Homo sapiens: one gene and its partner. The protein of the gene in region 1 interacts with the protein of each later gene in a biochemical or structural test. Each region holds a gene or a part of one and is shown on either strand. Other genes may lie near its edges. The genes, in order: F5 and PROS1.

Evidence for each region.
Region 2: the proteins of F5 (region 1) and PROS1 form a complex in vitro, tested with the Homo sapiens proteins (2 studies listed by BioGRID).

What each region holds. Positions count from the first base shown.
Region 1 is NC_000001.11:169,573,452-169,585,735, reverse strand, and holds part of F5 (coagulation factor V preproprotein), read left to right. Parts: intron 1-3,213; coding exon 3,214-3,305; intron 3,306-12,284. UniProt on the Homo sapiens protein: Central regulator of hemostasis. It serves as a critical cofactor for the prothrombinase activity of factor Xa that results in the activation of prothrombin to thrombin.
Region 2 is NC_000003.12:93,893,396-93,900,896, reverse strand, and holds part of PROS1 (vitamin K-dependent protein S isoform 2 preproprotein), read left to right. Parts: coding exon 1-93; intron 94-2,327; coding exon 2,328-2,449; intron 2,450-4,205; coding exon 4,206-4,321; intron 4,322-7,501. UniProt on the Homo sapiens protein: Anticoagulant plasma protein; it is a cofactor to activated protein C in the degradation of coagulation factors Va and VIIIa. It helps to prevent coagulation and stimulating fibrinolysis.

The DNA of each region.
Region 1 (12,284 bases):
TTATAAATGACTTTCAAAATATCATCAGTTCTTGTATGTTTTTGTACTTTCACCTTTTTTCTGCTTCATATTTGACTTATTTATCCTATTGAATGTGACTCTTCATTTTTTTTTCTCTCTGTTCATCATGTCCTGGGATATGGTTTACCTTGGCTACTTAAAGGCATATGTAACTGAGAGGAGGTTTAATTCAGATAAAATACTATCCTTGAGTTGCAAACTATTTTTTCTAATTGAAATGTTAAAAATAAGACTTCTCAGAAATTAACTAAATCATACAGTCTATTCAATATTTCCAGTTAGTTATTTTTTAAATGGTAAACCTGCTAGTGTGACTCACTTTTTTTCCTTACATCACACTTCATTATGAAAGATGTGTTCCTCTTTTACAATTACAAAACCAAAGTAATCTGCCAAAAAATAATGTAATATTTTGAGATCTTTTAGTGTATAATATTAACCTTTTTAAAACTCTCATTGTAACTGGGTTATTTTGGAGGGTATTACATACCATCTTGGTCTTATAATAAGAAGAGATCCCTCCTTCTCAAAAATAATCATTTTAAATATCGTACTTCAAAGTGATAATCTAGGTCACACCCACACCCTTTGGGAACTGCCGTAAGCTAAAACCCCAAGGAAAATAACAGTCCTTCTAACACTAATCTTGCCTGCTCATGAGTAGAATGCAGACTTGGTTGTTGGCTTTCTTGTAGCATGCTGGGTTCATGCTTGGGAGTTTTTTCTCTTGTCTGTAGTTAGCGTTGAAAATAACAAGCAAAATACCGGAGGCAGAACCAGATAGGGCAAAGGTCTGATTCACATGGTGAGTACACAGGGAACCATGACTGGTCATTCTGTCCCCTCATCCTGTGGGTAAGTTTCCAAAGTTCTGGAGATTCGTTCCTCTGGTAGGAATTGTTGAGTCAAAACCATAGAAACACAACCCAGACAAACTGTCATATTGTTTAACCCTAAATCATATCATTTCTCTCTAGCATTTTCTTATGAAAAATCTAATCCATATATCTGGCTGCTTAAACTAAGAACTTGTTCTAACTTGTCCTGCCCCTAGAGCTATGATACTCACTAGGTGAATATCAACATAGCCAACTCCATCTTTTGGCAAAGTGTATTTTAGCACAAAGCAGACATCTATCTACTTATTTCATATAATATTAGCAGGACAATGCCTTTTAAAGGTAAAATGTATCTATTATTCTTGCTCCAAGTCTAAGGTGAACACTTTCAAAAATTTCCTTAGAAAACTTGTTTAGTCACTCACATGTATACAAAGAGATATTGAAGAAAAGATATACATACATTTTCCTTCTAGGGTTCTAGCTTTATATGATTTTGTGATTATGAACAAATCATCTTTAAACAATCCTTATAAATGAAAAACTCGTCGTACACATTGTTTGAATTCATATGATCTGTAACTTTTTAATCAGATAGATTATTTTCCAATAGAAATTGTTCAGATCAAAATAGACATACCTCAGTATGAATACACAGCATACATAGTAAAAACATGTTAGGAAACATCTCTCTGTTGAAATTACTCCACGTAAGAGACTGATATTTTTTAGTAAAGATTTTACACCATCATCTACATTTCTGTATTAAAGATCTGGGGCAGGGGAGGACAATAACTTTTCAATTGTACTAAAAATAAATAAATAAAAATGGACTTCCACATTAGGGACATTAGTATATAGAATCCTGGAATTCTTAAGTTAGAAGAATGCTAAGAGTTCATTTAATTCATATTCAACTTCCACGCTTTAACCTTCTACTTTTCCCCTTTCCCTCAGCACCAATGACCTTACCAAGTAGTTGTCTAATTTCTACTTGAATGCTTCCAGTGATGGAGAATCCACTACCTTCTCTATCTAGCTATTCTAAAAGTACTTACGTGCCTCCTTTAATTCTGCCCCCACATATTAACACAGTTTCTGTATTCCACATATTACAATTTGTGAGCATTACTGTAACTACAGATTTGTTTTTGCTTTCTGAGAAAACCTGAAGGGTAAAGACTAACTCTTATTACATTTACAAAATAATATTACTAGCTAACATGGATTGAGTATTTCTAGTGTGCCAGCTCTATGCCTTTTGCACATATCAACTTATTTAAAATTATACAACAATTCTGTGAAGGAGATTTCAGTATTAATCTCATTTCATAGTTGTAGAAACTGAGGCACAAATGGATGAAGTAAACTTTTCAAAGTAAAACAATAAGAGGTAGATATAGGCTTCAAGTCCAGAGATACTGAATTCACAGCCTGCACCCTAGCCACCGCGCTGTATAGAAGTCATGGCATATGTGGGTGCTGTTATGTCTTGATTATGGCTGGGCCACTGTCCCCACATTAGGAAGCAAAACAAAGCCACTCTGATCAACTGATTTAGACATTTGCAAGGTATTTTCTCCAAATTCTCTTTCCTTTTACCCTCATCTTTGAGTTTAAGACAAGGATAAGACTGATTTGCCTTTAGAGGTACAGAACAATAACAACAACAGCAAAAACAGGAAAGTAACCCACCACTCACAACTCTCCCTGTTGTCTGTCCTCTCTCTAATTTTATTTAAAATCATGAATGCAGTGGTTTCACATTTTTTAATCTTGGTTCTGCCACTTATCAACTGTATCTCTTGGACAAGTTACTGACTCTTTCCAAAACAGTTTTTTCATTTGTTTGTTTCCAATATGAATCCCAGGGCTTTTACCCCATTAGCCATCTCTCACCTCTCAACTAGAAATAAATTCCACCAAATCAATACTTTTTCACAATGTTCCCCAGTAGATTAAAACTATATTTGATTGATCAGTTGAAAAACAGCTCATATATTTATTCATAAAGGATTTGGTCATATTTTAATCATATAAAATCTAAACCTACAGTTTGGGTTTCTACTGTGATATTGGGTTCTTTTTAGAAAATTGATTCTGAGGAATGATATTAGGGTAGATTAACTTGTGAACAAATAGTTATCACAACAGGATATTTTTGAAGAGACCAATAATTATTTCATTAACTTTACTTATTGATCATATTTATAAAACTGTGGACTTCTGAAATACAATAAAGATACTGGTATTCTACTAGAAGTCTGAAGATATGAGAGATCTACTTTTTTTGTAATGTGAGAAATAGATATTGAATATGCCTTTCAAATTAGTTTTTGTATTTTATTTCCAGTTTGAATCTTTCTGTAACTTCCTTTAAGAAAATTGTCTACAGAGAGTATGAACCATATTTTAAGAAAGAAAAACCACAATCTACCATTTCAGGTAAGCCTGAAATATACTTTTTTAATTTTAAAGATAAATTTCTATGGGTAATTTGGCATTCACATGCATCTAAAATATCCATTTACTGAAAATTTATAGAAACGTGTGGTTTTTTTTTTAAGAAGTACTGGCTACATAATATGTGGGGCCCAGTGCAAAATGAAAATGTGAGTCCCCTTGTTCATATTATTGAAAATTTCACAGTGACTGCAAAGCATTAAACCAAGCCAGGGGCCCTTTGGGGCATGGGGCCCTGTGAAACTGCCCAGGTCACATACCCATGAAGCTGGCTCTGTTTTTAACCTTGATTAAAATAACTAAATAAAACTTATAAGTGTTTGAATTTTTATTCATTCATCTAAAAAACTGTTATTGAGTACCTGGTATGGGCTGGGCATTGAAATAGGCATTGTGGATGCAATAGTGGACAAGACAGTCTCATATCCTGGGTTCATGGAGATTATGGTCTAGTTTAATGAGCATAGATGTGCCTTCGCAAAATGATATTTTGCTTCCATTTGGCTCCCTAGATTCATTCAAAGGAACTATGTATGGCTGACTCTTTTGCATCTCTTTCCCGTCTATTCTTCTGTTTATTTAGTGTGATATATACAATAGCCATAATTTTTAAAGAAAATCTCTTATTTTTTCCTCATCTCTTCCTTTATCAAGAAGACTGGGTTGAATAGGGTTCTAATATCTTAACTATGATACCATATTCCGCAGGGATGATAGAGACCATCAAGGGAGAACTTCCTCCAGTTGAATCCCCTTGTCAGTAATTCACCTGTCCCTTTCCCCAATCAGATGAAGACCTGCTGTCTTTCCCAGAATCATCCTAGTCTGTCCTGCCTCTTCTGATCTCCTTTAATCTTCAATATTTAGTCAATGGGAGTCTTCCTTTCAGTTAAAAATCAACGACTAAACCAAAACCAAATCAAACCATGTCCAGTTAACTCCTATCTAGAAAAAGAAAAAAAAAAATCTCCCCTTGACCCTGCCTGCCTTTTCCTTTTCTCTCCTTTCCTTCACTACCAGTTTTCTGTATGAGAACTCTGTATCATTCTCTACATTTCTTCGCCTATATTCCTTCCCTAATCTGCTTTAGTATGAATAAGTCTACTAAAATTACTCTCACAAAAGGGCACCTAGGACTTGAGGTGCCAGAGCCTATGTTCTTTTACTACTAGACATTACTAGGACATTTAACACTCTTCCTTTCTGAAGCTCTCGCTTTACCTGTTTTTTCTAGTGCCACTTCCCCTTGGTTTTCTCAGACTTCTCTTACCACTCCTGCTCAGTATCCCCACCAGATATTCTTCCCCAGGGTTCGAATCTCACCCAAAACCAAGGCTTTCACTACTACCTACCCAGAAGCCACTTTCCCTCTGAAGCTACATTGACACCCCCTCAATACCAGCAGAATTAAATCTTCCCTCTTCTATACATCCCCAGTACCTTGAATTAATCCCTACCTTCTAAAGATATTAAGAGGATCAATTGAGTTAATAAGTACAAAGTATTTATAATGATGCTGACACATAATAGGCACTCAGTAGAAGTTAGCTACATTATTGTTATTGTTGCTGCTATTACTAATCATAACTTAGATCATATATATCATAGTATTATGGATATCTATATATCTATATTTCTCCACTCATTTATATAGTCTTCACATGTGTTCATTTATATATTTATTTAATTTTAAACAGATCTGCATTTAAATATTCTTTTATTTTTAAATAATTGTGTATTGAGGCCAGGCGTGGTGGCTCATGCACTTTGGGAGGCCAAGGCAGATGGATCACTTGAGGTCAGGAGTTCCAGACCAGCCTGGCCCACATGGTGAAACCCCGCCTCTACTGAAAATACAAAAATTAGTTGTGCATGATGGTACATGCCTGTAGTCCCAGCTACTCAGGAGGCTGAGACATGAGAATCACTTGAACCCAGGAGGTGGAGGCTGCAGTGAGCTGACATCGCATCACTTCACTCCAACCTGGGTGACAGAGCGAAACTCTATCTCAAAAAAAAAAAAACAACAACAACAACAACAAAAAAGTATATTGAGAACCTACTACATTCTAGGCTCTGGGATAAAGTGAATAAGACATGGACCTTGATTTCCAGGAGCCAATCAGCTATTGGGGATAACCTATGGATAGACAAGCAATGACAGTAGAGTAATAAGGAAGAACTATGATGAGGATTCTGTAGTAGGACATAGGAGACCTATCTCCAGTCTGGTGGTCAGGAAAGTATTTCTATTTCTAGATTGATAGCTGAAAAAAGAGTAGGATCTTGGAAAGCCAAGTGGGGAGGCAAGGGGTTGGGTGATAGATGCATTTTAAACCAAGGCACAGAATGTTTAAAAGTTTGGAGGTGAGAGTATGGTATATTTGTGGAACCATAACTGGATCAGCACAGTTGGACCACAAACTTCAGGGAAGGAATTAACAAGAGATGCAACTAGATGGGGATCAGGGATCCATGCTAGGCTTTATATTGAGAGGAATAGGGAGTCCCTAAAAGGATTTCAGCAGGAGAAATATTTGTCCTTTAGAAAGATTATGTTGTCCAATTATAGAGAATAGATTGGAGAAAGACCAGTCCAGAGCCAGAGAAAGTAGTCATGGGACTGTTGTATCAATCCAGATAGCAGAGAAGCTGAGATGGAGTCCAAAGATATTTAGGAGCTAAAGTTGATTAAACTTGGTGACTCATTAGATGCAGATAATGAGGAAGAAAAGGGAATTGTTATGGACTTCAAGGTGTCTGGTTTGAACAGCAGAATGGATAGGGTGCCATTCAGTGAGAAAGAAAATGTAAGAAAAGGAGATAGTTTGTGAGAGAAGGTGATAAGTATAGATTTGGAGTCTGAGGTGTGTATAGAATATCTACCTAGAGATGTTAAGTGAGCAGACGGGTGTAGAAGTTTGGCCCTCAAAAGAGAGATCTGAGCTAGCTGTCAACATTTGGGAGACATCAGAACAAAGATGGCAAATGAAGAATTTAGAGGGTGTGAACTCACCCAGGGAGGATGTGATGAGAAGAGAAGGCTGCAGACAGAGCTCAAAGTAGCAGCAAAGTCCAAGGGATGAGCCAAGAAAGAAAAGTTTACCAAGGAGCTTGAGAAAGCCTGTTCAGGGAGGGGAGAAGAAATCTAGAGAATGTGTTATCCTGGAGGCAAAGGGTCAAATGCTATTAATATAAGGGTCAAAATATGGTCCCTTTGTTATGGAATAGTGGGACAAGACCAGATGGCAGGGTGTTGAGGAGTGAATGGAAGGCGAGGAAACTGAAGCACAAGGGTCTTATAGATAACTCTTCCCTGAAACTTGGTTCCAGATGGGAGGAGAGACAGGGTAGTTTCGGGGGTGGGGGTGGGTACTGAGGAGCTTAAGGACATTTGAGAATTTTATAAAAAGGAATACAGAGACTTAAATATTTAAGGGAAGACTCTATAGAAATGCCATGAAGTCCTTTCCAATAGAAAATGTGGGGATAAAACATCTGAGAGAGAATGATTAATGGAGACTTAGAAGAAGCAGGAAGCATTGGGATTCAAACCTTGGGCTGGCTTGGCCTTAGGTAGAATGGCTACCACCTTCATGGGGGGCCAGGAAAGCAGAGGATAACGTTGCAAATAAAATTAAGTTTGTAGTTATGAGTAGGAAGTTGAAGGATGTCCTGTCCTATATCACAGAGTCTATTCATTTTCATAGCTCCAGCTCCAAGCTTAGCATGTACAATAGATACTTAAGAACTATTTAATTAAATTAAATTGTAGGTAGATGAAGGGAATATAAGGTGGGAAACATACTCATTAGGGCCAGGAAAAGAGGATTGGGGCCGGTATTTGAAGGTGTACCTTTTGTGGCTTTTGCCAAGCTAAGCAAATTTTAATCCCTTTGCTGTGTGAGACATTGTGCTAAATGCCATAAGAGACGGAAAGGACTAATTCCAGGCTGAAGACTTTTAAACAATAAAAAGGCATGGATAGCTTTTGAAGAAAAGGGTTCTGTGATCAAAGTCCTTTCAGATGATTAAATTTTTTAGTGATTTCCTGATTTAACCTTGTTAGAGGTAGACTCTGACAGTTGGTGAGAACAGTCTCCAATTTATGTGTAAGGCCTTTGCACCTTTCTGTCAACCCCTGTGTATCTCAGAATATATTTGTTTCATGTGGACAAAGGTGTTTCGACGTCCATTTTAATGTAATCTCTTCCTGAATGTCCAAAGTTGCTTAACTATGAACTTATGAAGTGCAGGAGTGGTATCTTATTCACCTTTGTAACTCTATAGTAGTTGATACAAGGAGGCAAATCTGGCGTGAAGGAAAAGCCTTTTATTTTGACTGAGAAGATCTGGATTTGAACACTGCCATTAACTATGTGGCCTCTCCCATTCCCCAGACTAGTCCTGTGTTATTTGTACCTTTCCCCTATGTCCTGCTCCACTCATCTGCTGGGTGTGATTCTAGCTGAGCCCTGAAAAAGTCATGAGCCTCACTCCTGCAGCATGAACTATTGTTGTTGTTAGTTCTTGTAATTGTAGGGGGCTGGGCTGTAGGATTGGAGGTATGAAGATGCCCATCCAATAAGGTTTGTGGACATTTGGGCAGGTGAGGGAGTACAGCTGGGGTCATTTTTAGGAATTCTGTCTTGGGCTTTAAAATGGCTAGTCTTGGCTGGGCATAGTGGCTCATGACTGTAATCCCAGCACTTTGGGAGGCCAAGGTGGGAGGATTGCTTGAGGCCAGGAGTTTTAGACCAGCCTGGGCAATGTAGTGAGACTCTGTTTCTATTTAAAAAAATACATACATATATATATATATATATATATATATATATATATATATATATATTTAAATTAGCCAGACATGGTGGTACATACCTGTCATTTCAGCTACTGGGGAGGCTAAGGCAAGAGGGTCATTTAGGACAAGAGCATCACTTGAGCCCAGGAGTTGGAGGCTGCAGTGAGTTATGATCACACCACTGCACTCCAGCCTGGGTGACAAAATAAGACCTCATCTCTAAATAAATAAATAATTAATTAAATTGGCTAGTTTTGAGTCTGCATATTTTTCAGGGACAAATTATAAAATGTTTGTCCCTGAAGGAGTTTTGAAATAGCTGCAACAATCACTACCTTGTGTTATGTAATGCATTGTTCACCTAAGAGCAGGGGATTGGATTAGTTGACCTTCTGCAGTCCTTTCCAGTTCCACAACTGCACTAAATTGGGTACATGCTGTGCTGGCTTCCCCAAGCCCTGAAGTAGGCCACTCCTTTCCCCAATCCAGCTTTGGGCACTGAGGAGAGGGTTAGAAGGGTTTTAGGCCATCTGGCTGTTGGAGGAGCTAAAGAGCAGCTTGAAAACCATTTAGCCATGTGTTTTCCTACATGCGTGAAAGTATTTGGTATGCATTTATGAAAACATCCTTTTGTTTTGCCTTAAATCTGAAGAAGCAGGAGGGGAGGTTGAATAAATACTCCAAACTGTCCACTGAAGTAATAGGTCTTATTAGGTTAAATAACTTAGGAGACTTTCTCTGGGCATCTGGTATTTGCAGGCATGTGATGCCAACAAACAAATCAACCAAGCAAGAGAACCATGGCAACTAAATGCGGCACACAATTGGCAGCATAGTCAGCACCCTGTTGGGCTCATTGGCAGCTGGGGTAGGTGGGAATAGTCAGTGGAAACTTCCATCAGGAGCCAAGACAGAGGGTAGCAGCTGGAAGAGGGGGGTCAGTCAGTGGAGTCCGACATGTCAGGAGTCAAAAGAGGTGTAGACATCTGGACTATTCTATAAAGATGGGGGCCTGAGCCTGCCCCGTGGAAGGAATAGGGAGAGCTTTGGCTCAGGAGTCCAGAGATCTGAGTTCTGATCCCAGCAATGCTACCAGATCACTGACTGACCTTGGGCAAGTCACCTTTGTCCCCCGATTCCTACCTCCCAGGCTTTGTTAACTAAAATAAGGACTGAACTTTGTGACCTCCACAGTCCTGTGTAAAGCTAACATAAAAACAAACAAAAAGCTTCAGGCACAAGATCAGAATAAACTCCAGGAGTAGGAGTTCAAGGAAAGGAATAGGACAACCGTGGGTGGCAAGACAGGGGTAGGGAAAGATAGGACCTCTGTCCCAGAAATCAGAGTTTACCATTGCTTCTGTAACCAGTTACTGCAAACTTAGTGGCTAAAACAACACAAATTTATTCTTTTATGATTATATATCTGCAGATGAGAAGTCCAAAATGGGTTTTATTGGGCTAAAATCAAGGTGTTGGCAGAGCTGCATTCCTTCTGGAGGCTCTGGGGGAGAATTGTTTCCTTGTCTTTTCCAGTTACTGGAAGCTGCCTACACTCACGGGCTCATGGCCCCTTCCTCCATCTTCAAAACCAGCTGAGTAGCATCTTCCAAGCTCTTCCTAACTCAGATTCTCCTGCATCCCTCTGATAAGGACCTTTGTTATTACATGGGATCCACCTGGACAGCCCAGAAGAATCTCATCTCAAGATTCTTAATCATAGATACACAGTCCCTTTTGCCATATAAAGTAGCATATTTCCAGGTCCCAGAGATTAGGACGTGGACATCTCAGCAGGGGCACATTATTCTGCCTACTACACCCACCAAACAAAGCCCTCCCACGGTGTCCTCCATCTCAGAGAATGGCACCCTCCTCCACCCAGCTCCCCAAATCAGAACCTCATCAGCCATCCACAGCAACTGATGTCCTTTATTCTCTACCCCACATCCAATCCATCTTCAAGTTCCAACTATTTTATCTCATAAATACATCACTAATATATTCTCTCCTCATCATCTCATCATAATCTCAGTCACCACCATCTCTCCTGGAGTCTTCTATCTGTTCTCTCAATTGTTCTCTGCTCAGTCTCCTCCGAGATCATCCTCCACAAATACAGCCAGAGATTTTAAAACCAAAATCTGGTCCATGTTGCACCCCTGATGAAAACTCTTTAATGGCTTCCAGATACTCTTAGGCTAAAGGGAAAACTCTATGAGGCTTACAAAGCCCTGCATGATGGGACTCTGAGGATGCCTTCGGCTTCACCTTCTGCCCCTTCCTTTCACATACTAAGCTCCACCTCCCCACTGGATAACTGTCAGTTCTCTAAAAAGGCCACATTTTCTGGCACCTCAGGGCCTTTGCGCACGCTACTCTAACTTTTTAGAATGTCTTTGGCCATCCCTTTTCCTCTCTGCCTTTGGACCTCAGTTAAAGGATTAATTCCTCGGGAAGGGATTCCCCAACTCACCTCCAATTGGACTAGATTCCACTGTCAAATACTCTTCAGAGTATTCCCTCCTTTTCTGTCATAATATTTACCATAGGTTTAAATTGAATGTTTTTGTGATCATTTGTTTAAAATCTGTCTTTCCTACTATAAAAACGTATAAAGTTATAGAACTATAAAAATGTTTGACTTTTATAAACTCTATGAAGGCAGGGAGTGGGTGTATCTATTTTACTCTTTTACGCACCATTGCAATTCTGATGCCTAGGATAATATAGGCACTTGATATTCATTGAATAAATAAAGGAATGAATAAAGGAATGAATACAAGGTGGAGGTGTAGTATAAAGAAGTGGCTTAAAAGTCACGATCTAGAGACAGACATATTAAACTTTAAATCATGATGCTGTGTGATATTAGGCAAGATATTTAAACTCTCTGAGGCTCAGTGTCCTCACCTATAAAATGAGGATCTTAATATCTACCTTAAAAACTTGTGAGGATTAATGTAGGGACTTACAGTGCTTGAATGTATTAAGGGAAACAGTACAGGAAAGCCTTATTATGATTATCATCACCACTGCAAACAAATGCTGGCTGAACTCCATGAGTGCCGTGACTTCCTTCTCCTGCTTCTAGGACGCCTAATGGCGAGAAGCCAATCCCATGACACTTGTGGATGGCTCAGAAATGACAGTAGTTGATTTCTGTCACTTGTCTGGAATGGGGCTTTTGGTCATAGATTCTCAAGATTTCAAAGACATCAAGATCACCAAGGAGCACACGTTAAAGTCCAGATTCCCAAGTTTCACCTCCAGAACTCAGATTCATTGAGGCTGAGGTGATATTTGGAAATCTGCCTCTTATTAAGACCCTAGGTGATTCTGATGCAGAGACTCCAAGGACTACACTTTGGAAATTCTAGTACAGTCATCCCTTGGTATCCACAGGGTATTGGTTCCAGGACTACTCACAGATACCAAAATTTGCAGATGCTCAAGTCCCTTATATAAAATTTCATAGTATTTGCAATAACCTATGCACATCCTCTCATATACTTTAAATCATCTTTAAATTAGTTATAATACTGAATGCAATGTAAATACTATGTAAATTGCTATTATGTTAGAGTTTTATTTGTATTGTTTTTATTGTTTATTTTTTATTGTTGTTTTTTGAATATTTTTGATCCAAAATTGGTTGACTCCATGGATGTGTAACCATGAATATGAACCATGGTCATGGAGGGCTGACTATATACAATTCCTCAAATTCTGACTCAGCCATCAACTTTTTCCCTAACTCCCCAGACAGAATTTGTGCTTCATCCTCTCTTCTTCTGTAATATTTTGCCCATATCTCAGCAGTCGCTCCTATCATACATCTATCTCCAAACTAGCTTGTGAGTTCCTTCAGTACAGGGACTGTATTTGATCCAGGTAGCCAGAAACTTTCTAACACAGTGCCTGGCATGTAGAAAGTAAAACCTCATTCTTGATTTCTGCACCCATAACCTCCTGTCTCTGCTGTGTTCTCCCATTGCAGTAACTAATAACATCATTTACCCAGTTGTTCTGATAAAACACCTTGAGGTCATCCTTGACTTCTGTCTCTCACAAGCCACATGCAATCCATCAGCAAGTCTTGTTTGCCTTACCTACAAAAATGTCCAGACTCCAACCACTACTCATCACGTTCTGCT
Region 2 (7,501 bases), on another chromosome or scaffold:
GTGGCACAGCTGTGTGCAAGAACATCCCAGGAGATTTTGAATGTGAATGCCCCGAAGGCTACAGATATAATCTCAAATCAAAGTCTTGTGAAGGTAGGATGATGGTGGTATCATTACTGATGGTGGAGAGGGTGGGTGTGAACCCTGAACTGATATTTAAAAGCATTGGCTTTGTTTGACATCAACAGTCATATTTTCTTATCCCTAATATAGCTTGTTCAATTGGGTAATCATTGGCTTCCTTCCTTCCAGAGCAAGAGTATGTAAGGCATATGGTCTTTAAGTTTGGTGTTAGGCACGCCAGTTGGCCCTTTGAGCTACCTATGAATTGGAGACCTCCATGTGTGGTAAAAACAAGATAAACATATTTTCACATCATTTATATCATATTCAAAGATAAAGAGAATTTCACTTTGGAAGGAAAAACAGTAGATAGAAAAGAAAGACACAAGCTTAAAAATCATCTTATTGAGACAATGAGCATGGTTAAAACTTTAGTTTTTATTCCAAGCTTTTCAGTGATTTTTCTGTGCATATATAAATAAATCATTTATTCTAAAATAAAAAATGACACAGTTCTATTATCTCATGATAAAGAAATGATAACAATACTCTAGAAATTTAAGAAATACTGATCGGTAATGTCAGAGCCTGTGGGTTTGGGGCAACCCCTTAAAGGTGCTGTTACTTCATGTGACTGCAGTGGCGCTGCCCTGTGTGCATCAGGAAGCTTCAACATATTATAGTTGTTTGTTTGTAGGTTTGTTTATTATGATATACAGATTATCTCATACCTTCCTTTCGATTTTTTAAAATTTTAAAACAGATTTACTGCCATGGCTGGAACTAATCAACACTAATTTTTCTATTGTATCTGTATATATATATGTATGTATGTATATTCACACACATGTATAATGTACCTTTTAAAAAATAGATTTAGGGGCTACAAGTACAGTTTTAATGTACTCTTTTAACCATTTTTAAATGTACAGTTCAGTGGCATTAATTACATTCATGCCATTATGCAGCCATCACTGCTATTTCCAAAACTTTTTCATCAGCCCCAACAGAAACTCTTAAGCAGTAACCATTAAGCAGTGAGTTTTCTTTTATTAGTTACCTTGATGGCGGTAACCTCTAATCTTGTTTTCTGTCTCTATGAAGTTGCCTAAATCAATAATAATTTTACAATATATTTTTTAACTACGTATGCTGCTTTTGAGATTTTGATGTCCTATCATCTCCTTTTGCAATCACCAAAAATATTCCCCTGCCAGCCCCCGCAACACATTTCTCCTTTCTCACCATTGCAGATAGAAATTACCGTGGAAAACTCTAGATGTCTGCGGAATTATCATTAGCCAACTTCATCACTTGTATTGTAGTTTTATTTAATGAATGACATATTTTTTAAAAAGATTTATATATGACTCTTATCTATAACTTTAATAATATGCAATTTTAATACTAAGGATTATTAATTTTGGGAATCTATTTTAAATTATTTTATGAGAACATATTCAATAATAGCATTTATGAGCTTGTGGAGTTTTAAAGGTCATAGGGCATATCCAATGAAAATGTCAATGATCTTATATAACTCTGAGATAGATGTTTGCTTCAACATAATATTATAAATTTCCAAGAATGATTTTCTCAAAATATGGAGTAGGGACAGGGACCATATAGAAGATTTCATAATATGGGAGATTACATCACAGTGAGGTTTTTTAAAAAAAAAAAAACAGATATTTCCCTAAATTCACTGCCAACATTAATTATCGCATTATGAGTGTTCCAATGTTCTTGATATTGTCATTTAATTCCTGATTGTATCAACCTTCAGTTAAAGGGGTCTTTTCTTCCCTTCCCTTCCCTAACTTTCCTTTCCTTTACTTCCCCATCATGCTCTCCCTTCCTCTTTCCCTTCTCATTTCTTTTTTCTTTTTTTCAAAGCAATGAATTGTGAGGTAATCTCAATGAAATTCAAATGATCAGAAATGACAGTTAAGTTGAGATTCTCAATCTTTTTTTTCTTCAAATTCAAAATGAGAAATTTGGTAGAATTGTTATACTTTACTTAATCACTGAAAGTTATAAATTAATTTTTGTTTCAAATATGTAAATAAAAACTATACTTGTAACTCGTTTAAATTTCCATGTTCAGTATTATGTTTAAATGTAGTTTGATGTCATAGTATTTCTTTCCCTAAGGTTCGATTATCATTGATTATATCATACTACAATCATAATATTCCTCTGCCTATAAGATTGAACATTTAGGGGATATTAAAGTTTGTGTGCGTGTGTTTTTTTTACCTCAGATATAGATGAATGCTCTGAGAACATGTGTGCTCAGCTTTGTGTCAATTACCCTGGAGGTTACACTTGCTATTGTGATGGGAAGAAAGGATTCAAACTTGCCCAAGATCAGAAGAGTTGTGAGGTAAACATTTTACAATGCTTAACTTCTCACCTGTTTTCTAAAATGAGAGATCCTAGATACTTATTTTCACATAGCTAAGTCAGGAAAATACAGACGTTCTGCAATAATTGCTGTAGCTTTAAGCAGGTTATGAGTCATGATTATTTACTAATTATGGTCATGTAAGTCATAAACATTGGGGATAATTAGTGGCTGGGTTTAAAAAAAAGAGGGTAGAGTCACAGTTTAGAGAGTACTTATCTGTAGTCTGTACATTTATAAAATACAACTTGTATGTTTACTTAAGAAATCAAGAAAAGCTGAGTTTAATAGCCCTCATTGTGAAAAAAAATCTCTCATAGAAACTTCAGTGAAAACATTTTCCAGTGTCTACTTTTCTGGATTCCACTCTGACTAGTTTGATCATGCCTTAGGCGTTATAGGGTTTATAAAGTGCTCATAAAATTTCAGAGGGTACAAGTGCAGTTTTAATGTACCCTTTTAACCATTTCTAGGATTTAGTGGGGTTTAAGTATATCATAATTCAGAGAGGTTGATTTCTTAATCTGTGTCTCTCAAACTTGCTTTTAATTACTTAGATTTAATGCATAATTGACCCAGGAATTGAATATTGGGGGTAGGTGCTCATTTTTACTTCATTGAAATAAATGTCACCATCTGAGCTCTTTTTTTCCTGCATCTTTTTTTGACAAGTGAAGGTAAAATTATATATTATTATGAGGCAGACCATAAAAAATGCCTAAATAATGATTTAACTAAGTATACATACATACCTCTATAGCTGTTGCCAAAACAAAGCTGTATATGTCCAGAAAAATGTCACATTCAATAATATGCAACCTACTTGGTAATAAGCTAGTTGGCATTTGTTGTAATTTTGGTACGTTACTACTTAATTGAAATGCCATGCTGTGTGAACATCTATTTTGTAATTTAGTCCTTTATTATTTCTGTATTTGGTGTAGTTACATATCACCGTCTGCCTTGAAATAGATTTATTAAAGTTTTAAGGGGAAATAAAATGTTATTTCTGGGCCTATATTTAATATAGTGCTATGTACGTAATTCTCCTCAAAATATCCTCATATGTGTTCAATAATTTGTATGTTAAAAGCTTTTCATTTTAATGTTTGTTTTCACTCGTAGAAAAAAAATACTTGATACCATATGTGATGACTTTAAATAATGTTCTTGTAAATTCCTTGGAGACTATGAGATCTGAATTTATATTTATTTCCTTCATGTTTTCCAGTATTCCCTTTACTATCTAGATAGCACATTCTTGCTCAGAAAACTTTTGCTTAATAAATGAATGAGTGAATGAATGAGGTGCTGTTTATTGGTACATTAATTCTTACACCTATTTCTGACTTCAAATAAAAATAATTTTCAGACATAATTCATGGGAGATAATATACCTGACTGTTAATTAAAGAAATATATATTGGTTCTTGAAGAAAGAGTTTGTGTTTAGGACGAAAATTTGCAAAGGAAGTATTAAAGACAAAGATCGAAAGCCATGCACATTGAACGAGGCTTTAAAACACATGTATTCTTGGAGGTTATACTGATAGATAGACTATACAAGGAAATGGAAGATATGTATTTATTATTACCAAAAATATTCTTAATTATTTTAGTGTATTACAGATGATACATTAGTAACCAAACAAAAATGCATGACCTCACACAAACATTAAGCAATAACCTGTGCATTTTGATTTTCTTGTTGTTTATTTGGTTTCTTTTATTCCAGGTTGTTTCAGTGTGCCTTCCCTTGAACCTTGACACAAAGTATGAATTACTTTACTTGGCGGAGCAGTTTGCAGGGGTTGTTTTATATTTAAAATTTCGTTTGCCAGAAATCAGCAGGTGAGGAACCAATACCAATGATAATTTCTAGAGGTTAAGCAGATAAGGGCAGAAGAAAAGTGGCCGAAAAGGTTTGAAGTGTGTGAAATTGTATTACCTATCAGATAATGTAGTCATATTACCAATCAGATGACTTGGGGAAACCTAAAGTTAATTTACTCCTTCACACATGTAATTTTCATCCTAAAACCTTTTTGAGTCATTCTAGGCTGACTTTCCCCAATGAACATTTTACATTATTCCATATTATTCCTTTTGTAGAAAATGCATATTTACTAAGAAGCTGGGAAAGTAGATTTAATGTACTTGTGAAATTTCCATTATTCTTTACACATGTTATGAAAACCAGGTAATAAAAAATACTCAGTATTGCTTTTAGAATATCATTATATTCAAAATTATTAAGGAAAAAATTTAAACTTGCTTAAGTGGCATTTTAAAGACATATATTACATAATTTTAGTTGGCTGTCTAAATACTTTATCCATTATTATCGTACTTAGATTGAGTTCAGAAATGAAGTAAATGCTTATGTTTTTTAGTCATGATTCCACTTATTTTTATAGCAATGTTTATGATCCAATTTTTATTTTATTATATTTATTTATTTTTGAGACAGAGTCTTGCTTTGTTCCCCAGGCTGGAGTGCAGTGGCGCAATCTCGGCTCACTGCAACCTTCGCCTCCCAGGTCAAGCAATTCTCCTGCTTCAGCCTTCTGAGTAGCTAGGACTACAGGTGTGAGCTGCCACACCCAGCTAATTTTTGTATTTTTAGTAGAGACAGAGTTTTACCACGTTGCCCAGGGTTGTCTCAAACTCCTGACCTCAGGTGATCACCTCAGGTGATCTGCCATAATTGTACTTCAGTTATCAGATTTTCTCAGAAGCATACATTGCTGGAAGTAGAAGAAAGAAATTGGATTTTTTTTGGAATAATGAGAAGGCAAAATACTTGAGACAGATTATACAGTTCAAATTTTAAAATATTTTAATTAAATAAGCATGTATGTTTAGAACTTGATGTTAGATACATGAATGATTATTCATTAAATAATTCAACTAAATTCATAGACGTTATTAAAAACATTGAAAATTATTCTAAGATCAATAACTTACATAAATACTTAAGTAACAGTGCTCCTTCCACACTTTATTTCTGCCAATATGTGGTTTTTTCCTTTAACATCACAGAGCAACTAATATCTTCTAATGATAGAGATTGGAGAAAACTCTTCCCTGCTATGAGAATAATAATGAGAGAAAAATATTAGTTCTAGTAAATAACACTTTTAGGAATACAATTGATCCTCCAAATCCTTGAGTTCCTCATCTGTGGATTTAACCAACCTCGGGTAGATAATATTCAGAAAAAAACACAATGACAATACAATACAAAATAATACAAATGAGACACAATACAGTATGACAACTATTTACATACATTTGCATTGTATTGAGTATTATACATAATGTAGAGACGACTTAAAGTACGTGAGAGGATGTGCATAGGTTATATGCAAATACTATGCCATTCTATATAAGGGACTTGAGCATCTGTGGATATTGATACCATCCAGAGGTCCTGGAGCCAATCTCCAGGAGTTTGTTCATTTCTCACTGACGATTCATAGTAGTTTGATCTCTAACATGGGATCAGAATTGGACAAATTATTTTTTCCAGAATTTATTATTTATTTATTTTAAACTTTTCATTGAAATATAAAGTATGTACCGATATGTACACATTAGATTAAATGTATAGCTTGATGAATTTTTATAAACTGCCCCTTGTGTGATCAACACAAAGAATAGCTAGTGCTTTTATTTATTTTTGCAAATTTCTTGACGTCTGTTGCTCATGATCAAATACTTTCCCTCCGTAAATGTCAACAAATTCATTCTATTTTCCTGTTTACCATGCTTGTGAAAAAGAATGAATTGTTCCCCATTGTAATGAATCAATATGCTGCTGATATATTCCAGAAACAAAATATGCAGAACATGACCCTTTGAAACTATGATTTCAGCCTGATTTTACAAAGAAAAGGAAATTATCTCCATAATAGAATCAACTGCTGGAAGATCCTGAGCATACACAGATTTGGATTTTGGCAAGATAATATTGCTTCACATCAGCAAAATGCTCAGATAATTATGAAAGAGCATAGAAGTCCTTATTCCAAGCAAAATTGTTCTTTTTTTCATAATCTGAGTTCAGTAAATTCCTACTACATTGTTATCCATCCAACATACTTTACTCCACATTTTACCTCTTTTTAAATATTTCTTTGGAATTCTAAAGATGAAAACATTCATTTTGTCACCTTTTCTTTGTTCCATTTGAGGGAGATACGTGCCCCATTGCAAATGGTGCCTCTATTACTATTACTATTTTACTATATTGCGGTAAGAGTGTGGGATTCTGTCCTGCCTAATATAGCAATTATCTGAAGTCCAGACTCTTTAACTTAAATTGCCTTTATTTTAAGTTAGGTGACTAATAGTTATACACCTATTGTTCCTTTTCCCTGTTTGTCTTTCGTCAATCATGTGGATTTGCTAGTCCCTTGGAAACTTCAATGCTGATTCTCATTGAAGTGTTTTAAGGATACTGAATCAACACATGTTATTTTAAGTCCTGCATCCTAAGACTTTTCTCCCCTGTAATAGCTACATATATGTCTAGAGTCTTAATAGCAACAGATGTTGCCAGCACTCAGATACCCCCCAAACACATGGGTAGACTATGTCTTTTAAGTTTTCCTTCTGTGTATTCTACAACAGTGACTTATGCAACTGGAGTTTTAGGAAAGCTAATAGATATATTTTAAGTTTTTAAATTTTACCTTTCTTACCACACATGAAGGCTTAATGATGTCTGCAGTCATCCATGTGCCATCTTGTAGATCTCCACGAGTGATTCCTGACATGTGAAATTATAGGGAAAATATGCCTTTTGATGAATAAACCAACGATGAAATTGTAACACATTTTATGATCACTTATGGATACAGCAAAAACAAAAACAAACAAAAAAGAACAACAACAAAAAAAACTACCACTTCTTAATGTCAGATTATATAGTGTATAAAAGGCTCCAGGAGAGATATAGTATGCCTGATACTTATACCTGTGTATTAATTTCAGCATTTGGAAGGTGCTATCAAAATATATGTCAAA